2 separate regions of the Homo sapiens genome follow, and region 1 is linked to region 2. The links come from fine-mapping of genetic effects on gene expression. A gene starts in region 2. The other region holds a variant in brackets. All regions are shown on one strand. Distances are from middle to middle. Region 1 has its middle 27 kb from the start of LINC02239. Region 2 holds the start of LINC02899 (long intergenic non-protein coding RNA 2899).

What was found. PIP is the estimated chance that this variant, and not a neighbour inherited with it, causes the effect.
Region 1: its variant is fine-mapped to the expression of LINC02899 in prostate (GTEx, PIP above 0.99).

What each region holds. Positions count from the first base shown.
Region 1 is chr5:24,866,266-24,869,185 of GRCh38, reverse strand. No RefSeq gene overlaps it. Among named protein-coding and RNA genes, the nearest start is that of LINC02239, 27 kb to the right of the region's middle. The variant C/T (reference allele first, on the strand shown) is at 1,165.
Region 2 is chr5:23,949,950-23,952,869 of GRCh38, reverse strand. It overlaps LINC02899 (long intergenic non-protein coding RNA 2899), which reads right to left and starts at 1,522. Exons shown (of 5, transcript NR_131245.1): 1 at 1,067-1,522. RefSeq lists an enhancer at 813-1,312.

The DNA of each region.
Region 1 (2,920 bases), 920 kb before region 2:
CTGGATTTCAGGTCTAGGAGTTCTCCAATACATGGACAAAATTTGGCTTCTTCAACATCAGTGCATGGGGCTTTCACAGAATTATGAATATTTCCGTCAGGGCCTCAGAAAGTATTTTCTTTCTATGTCAGTTTCTGATGTACCTCACTTTTAATGCACCAAAAAAATCAGTCGGTCACAAAATGAGCATTACTACCCTTCACATCTAGCAAGCCACTGAATGTATAGTACCTAATCCAATGATCACAGTCATAATTATGTTGCCAGAAGGTAGCACTTTATATTGCCTTAGGCTTCAGAATAAAATAACCTGAATCTCAGGGGATAAGGGAAAAACAAGAAAATCTTGGTTTTGGTTTATGAAGTTAGAAGTCTATGGAAACACATTGTCTTATATTCACGTTCTGTGGATTTTAAATTCAGTTAGGAGAAATTCCTAGGAAAAAAATAACATTTGTATGATACGTACATACACACTACCTCTGGAAATCATTTCATCTATCCTTAATAATTGCCATTCCTCTTTCAGCCCTATTTTTAACATGCCAGTGCTGAACTGATTGTGAATTCTATAAAGTGACATATCATCCCTTCTATTTTTGAGTAGGATTTAGTCCTGTGCAGCAACCAAATTCTTCAGGACTAAGAAACCTGTCTCCTGGGAAAATCCCCTCTGCCATTTACAGCTAACCATTCAACAGTTACCTTCAGACCATGAGAGATGACATTTCAGCACATGTCGAAACCACCAGAGGACTCAAGGTCAGTCAGTGCCTTTATTTTCCTGCATGGAGAGTCCCTGAATGGGGAACACAGCTCATGACTAGATCTTCTTAGCTAGCCTAACACTAAGATTAACAGCTGGAACTTCAGCAACGTACATGATTACATGCAGAATTCTGCCAACTTGCACTTGAAAAGCAGTTAATATTTTTCAGCCTCCTGACCCCGCTTCTAATGCACATAAGGCTCTCTTTCCTTTAGAGTTACAAGCCTGTCTATGACATGCATGCTTCAGAAAAGTTATGCTTTCTTGCTGAGCTGCAGCAACCTACATTTTGAAGCTGGTCACAACTATAAAAAACCAAACAAAAGAAAACAACACAAAACCAAAAAACCCAGCAACTTCTCCAGATCCATGACTTTGCTTGACCATATCTATTA[C/T]GAACCAGAAATGAGTGAGGCCACCAATATGGACCCTGAGATCTAATTCCTTCCATAAATTAGCCTGACAATTATAATCTCAACGGCTTGCTACTGTCAGTTGAGGTTGCTTATGTTCTTGTGTTGCTGCTTATGTGCTCTCTTGTGGCCTTTGCAGAGGTCCAGGCTGCCTATGTCTTGTCTTAGATCCTTACCCTCTTGCTATACTTTGAATGTATTTTTCTAAAATTCATTTTGAAGCCTAATTCCCATTGTGGTTTTATTGAGAGTTGAGGCTTTTGGGAGGTGATTAAGTCATGAGGGCAGAGCCCTCATGAGTGGGATTAGTGCCTTTATAAAAGAACTTGAAAGAACCTATCCTTTTTTTTCTACCACGTGAGAAGACAACATGAAAAGGCAGGCCATCTCTGAAGCAGAGAGCAGCCCATAGTAGACACCAAATCCACTGGTGCCTTGATCTTGGACTTCGTAGCCTCCAAAACTGTGAACAATAAATTTCTGTTGTTTATAAGTTGGCAGTTTAAGGTATTGTGTTATGGCAGTCCAAATGAACTAAGATATTGCTGAAGAAAAAGTTATTATTTTATGGACAGAGCCACCATTAACTGCAGCCCTTCAAAGTCAAAATAGCCTATGTGTGGCTTAAAACCTCAATCACAGTCCACAGACATAAAAAAACTAAACCCAGATTCATCTAATTGTACACTTAAAAAAGTAAGTTTTATTTTATGTAAATAACATCTTAATTTTTTTAAATGATGTAGCAAAGCAAACAAGGAGAAATGTATAGAAACAGAAGGCAGATCAATGGTTTCTAGAGACTGAGAGCTGGAGAAAAGAATTAACTATAAAGGGATATGAGAGGACTATTAGGGTGATGGAAATATTATACATCTTGATTAAATTTGCACCTAGGAAATTGCAGATTTTAAAGGGTTCAAGAAACTCTCGATTTAAAAATGAATTTTACTGTATATAAGTTATACATCAATAAACCTGATTTTAAAATAATTTCTTAAAAGCTGAACCACCCCAAGTGTTTGCTAACTCTGAGATCAAAAGAATTTCTGGATACACTAAAGTCTAGGCCCCCACAACACACAACTTGGAACAATGAAAACCTCTCCATGGCAATTTTTGCTCTCCAAAATTCCACTCAATTGTTTTGTTTATCAGTTTCCCCAGTATTTGTACAAAAGGTTAGCATAAAAGGATCTGAATAAACAGAACCTCAATTTTCTAAACTATTTTTAAATAATTTAACAAATAGTGCAAAGCAGTGGCTGCTGAACACTTTTATTAATATGAATTAATAAGAAGATTTAATTTCATTACTAACACTAAAACCCAGAATAAGACAGATTTTTTTGATAATATGTGTGGTTTGAAATTTTTGTGAAAAACTGTGTTTTACACTTCTGTTCACTTTCTTTAGCCATCAGTATAGTTGTCTTTAAAGGTGAGCCTTTTTCTTTTTTTTCTTTTTTTGCTAGACTCCTTACCTTCCTTGAGCTTCTTTCAAATTCTCTGCAACTTTTTCTACCACGTTAGGCTCAGTAATGTGTTTTTATTCCCGCTCACTTCAAGAATCCCTGTCCATTGATTGTGCCTTTTCGTACCCTAGTACTTTATCTTATGACCTGATTTACTGGACGTATGCCTGGAAGTTAGACCCTGCTTGGAGAAGCGTGATACCCTATTTAAATCAGCTGCCTCAAACACAAACTCAAGCATTCAATATCACTCTATCTTCCAC
Region 2 (2,920 bases):
AGTATTTCATAATAAAGACACCAAAAACAACAGCAACAAAAGTAAAAATTGATTAATGAGATCTAATTATACTAAAGAGCTTCTGCACAGCAAAAGAAACTATCAACAGAGTAAACTGACAACCTACAAAATGGGAGAAAATATTTGCAAACAATGTATCTGACAAAGATCTAATATCCAGCATCTATAAGGAACTTAAACAAATTTACAGGGGAAAAACAACCCCATTAAAAAGTGAGCAATAGCCATGAACAATCACTTTTCAAAAGAAAACATATATGTGGTCAAAAAACCTGTATCAAGCTCAGTATCACAGATCATTACAGAAATGAAAATCAAAACCACAATGAGATACTATTGTGTCCAGAATTGGTGGGTTCTTGGTCTCACTGACTTCAAGAATGAAGCCTCGGACCCTCGCGGTGAGTGTTACAGCTCTTAAGGTGGCGCGCGTCTGGAGTTTGTTCCTTCTGATGTTCGGATGTGTTCAGTTTCTTCCTTCTGGTGGGTTCGTGGTCTCGCTAGCTCAGGAGTGAAGCTGCAGACCTTCGCGGTGAGTGTTACAACTCATAAAAGCAGTGTGGACCCAAAGAGTGAGCAGTAGCAAGATTTATTGCAAAGAGCGAAAGAACAAAGCCTCCACAGTGTGGAAGGGGTCCCGAGCGGGTTGCCACTGCTGGTTCAGGCAGCCTGCTTTTATTCTCTTATCTGGCCCCACCCACATCCTGCTGATTGGTAGAGCCCAGTGGTCTGTTTTGACAGGGCGCTGACTGGTGCGTTTACAATCCCTGAGCTAGACACAAAGGTTCTCCACGTCCCCACTAGATTAGCTAGATACAGAGTGTCCATTGGTGCATTCACAAACTCTGAGCTAGACACAGGGTGCAGACTGGTGTGTTTACACACCTTGAGCTAGATACAGAGTGCCAATTGGTGTATTTACAATCCCTGAGCTAGACATTAAGGTTCTCCAAGACCCCACCAGAGTAGCTAGATACAGAGTGTCGATTGGTGCATTCACAAACCCTGAGCTAGATACAAGGTGCTGATTGGTGTATTTACAAACCTTGAGCTGGACATAAAGGTTCTCCATGTCCTCACCAGACTCAGGAGCCCAGCTGGCTTCACCCAGTGGATCCCTCACCGGGGCTGCAGGTGGAGCTGCCTGCCAGTCCCGCGCCGCGCGCCCGCACTCCTCAGCCCTTGGGTGGTCGATGGGACTGGGCGCCCTGGAGCAGGGGGCGGCGCTCATCCGGGAGGCTCGGGCAGCACAGGAGCCAACGGAGGGGGTGGGAGGCTCAGGCATGGCGGGCTGCAGGTCCCGAGCCCTGCCCTGAGGGAAGGCAGCTAAGGCCCAGCGAGAAATCGAACGCAGCGCCGGTGGGCTGTCACTGCTGGGGTACCCAGTACACCCTCCACAGTCGCTGGCCCGGAGGGTGTACTCCTCATTGCTCGGCCGCGGCGGGGCCAGCCGGCTGCTCCGAGTGCAGGGCCCGCCAAGCCCACGCCCACCCGGAACTCCAGCTGGCCGCAAGCGCCGCGCGCAGCGCCGGAAGCGCCGCGCGCAGCCCCGGTTCCCGCTGTCGCCTTTCCCTCCACACCTCCCTGCAAGCTGAGGGAGCCGGCTCCGGCCTTGGCCAGCCCAGAAAGGGGCTGCCACAGTGCAGCGGTGGGCTGAACGGCTCCTCAAGTGCCGCCAAAGTGAGAACCCAGGCAGAGGAGGCGCCGAGAGCGAGCGAGGGCTGTGAGGACTGCCAGCACGTTGTCACCTCTCAATATCTTTGATGAGTTCCAAAATTTTTAAATATTAAATATTTATAATACTTTAAGATTTATTTGAAAATGTTAATGAAACAAAGTGTAGAATCTGGATGCAATTCAAAAATGCCTCAAATATTTTATCTCACACCACATATGACATTAGTAAAATTATATTCATGACCTATACATCTTAAAAAACATTGAAACTTGCTTAGTTATAATTTAGCAAAAAAAAATTTTTTTAAAAACCTGTGAGATGGGCATTTAGCAAAAAAAAAAAATCTTGCTTAATTAATTTTGACCCCTTCTAAAAGTTCTTCTCACTCGTTTATCACTTATAATTTATATCTAAATAGTTAAATAATATATTTCATTTATAAATTGGAGAGATAATTATCTTAGCAAATTTCTTTAATTACACAATTGTATTTATCTTCAGTCATTGAGAGTTATGTAAGACTTAACTTCATATATTAGAGAAAAAAAGGAGTATTTACATCTTAAATTGTACAATATAACTTCTTTTTTTACCCATGTGATGTAGTTATGTTGATTAATACATTTGGTTGTAATTCCACATATTGTAAGTAACATTACATTTTTAGTAAGCCATTTCTTGCTGTGTAATCAACACTAATTCACTCTGGCTTCTAACGCTTATGCCCATATTTCCATGTTTGAAGGGTGACTATTGCTCTACTAGACTCATATATGATTGTCTTGACTTAATGTTAAGCTGCAAATTACATGCAAATCTCCTCCATATATTTCCTAACTCTCTTTAAATCATTGGTTACTATTCAGCTCCTCAAATCACTGTCTTTTGATGGCAGATCCAAAACAGCAAAAAGACAGGCCAACTTCCTGAATCATAGGTATAGCCTTTGCTTATATCTCACTTTACTCTCTTTTGACCACCGTAAGCCAGAGAGCAAATCCCAAATTTATGGAGCCAGAAAGGAGTGAATGTTTGTTGAGAAGTATCTCATTTTGTATCATACATATTATCTTCGCTGGGTCTGTTTCTTAGTATTAATGTGTACATGCATGTACACACACAACTATTATTACACTTAAAATTTACATAAACAGTTAAATTTTGGATTGATACTCATAATTAAAATACTATTTGTATACTTAATGACAACTCTTGGATTTA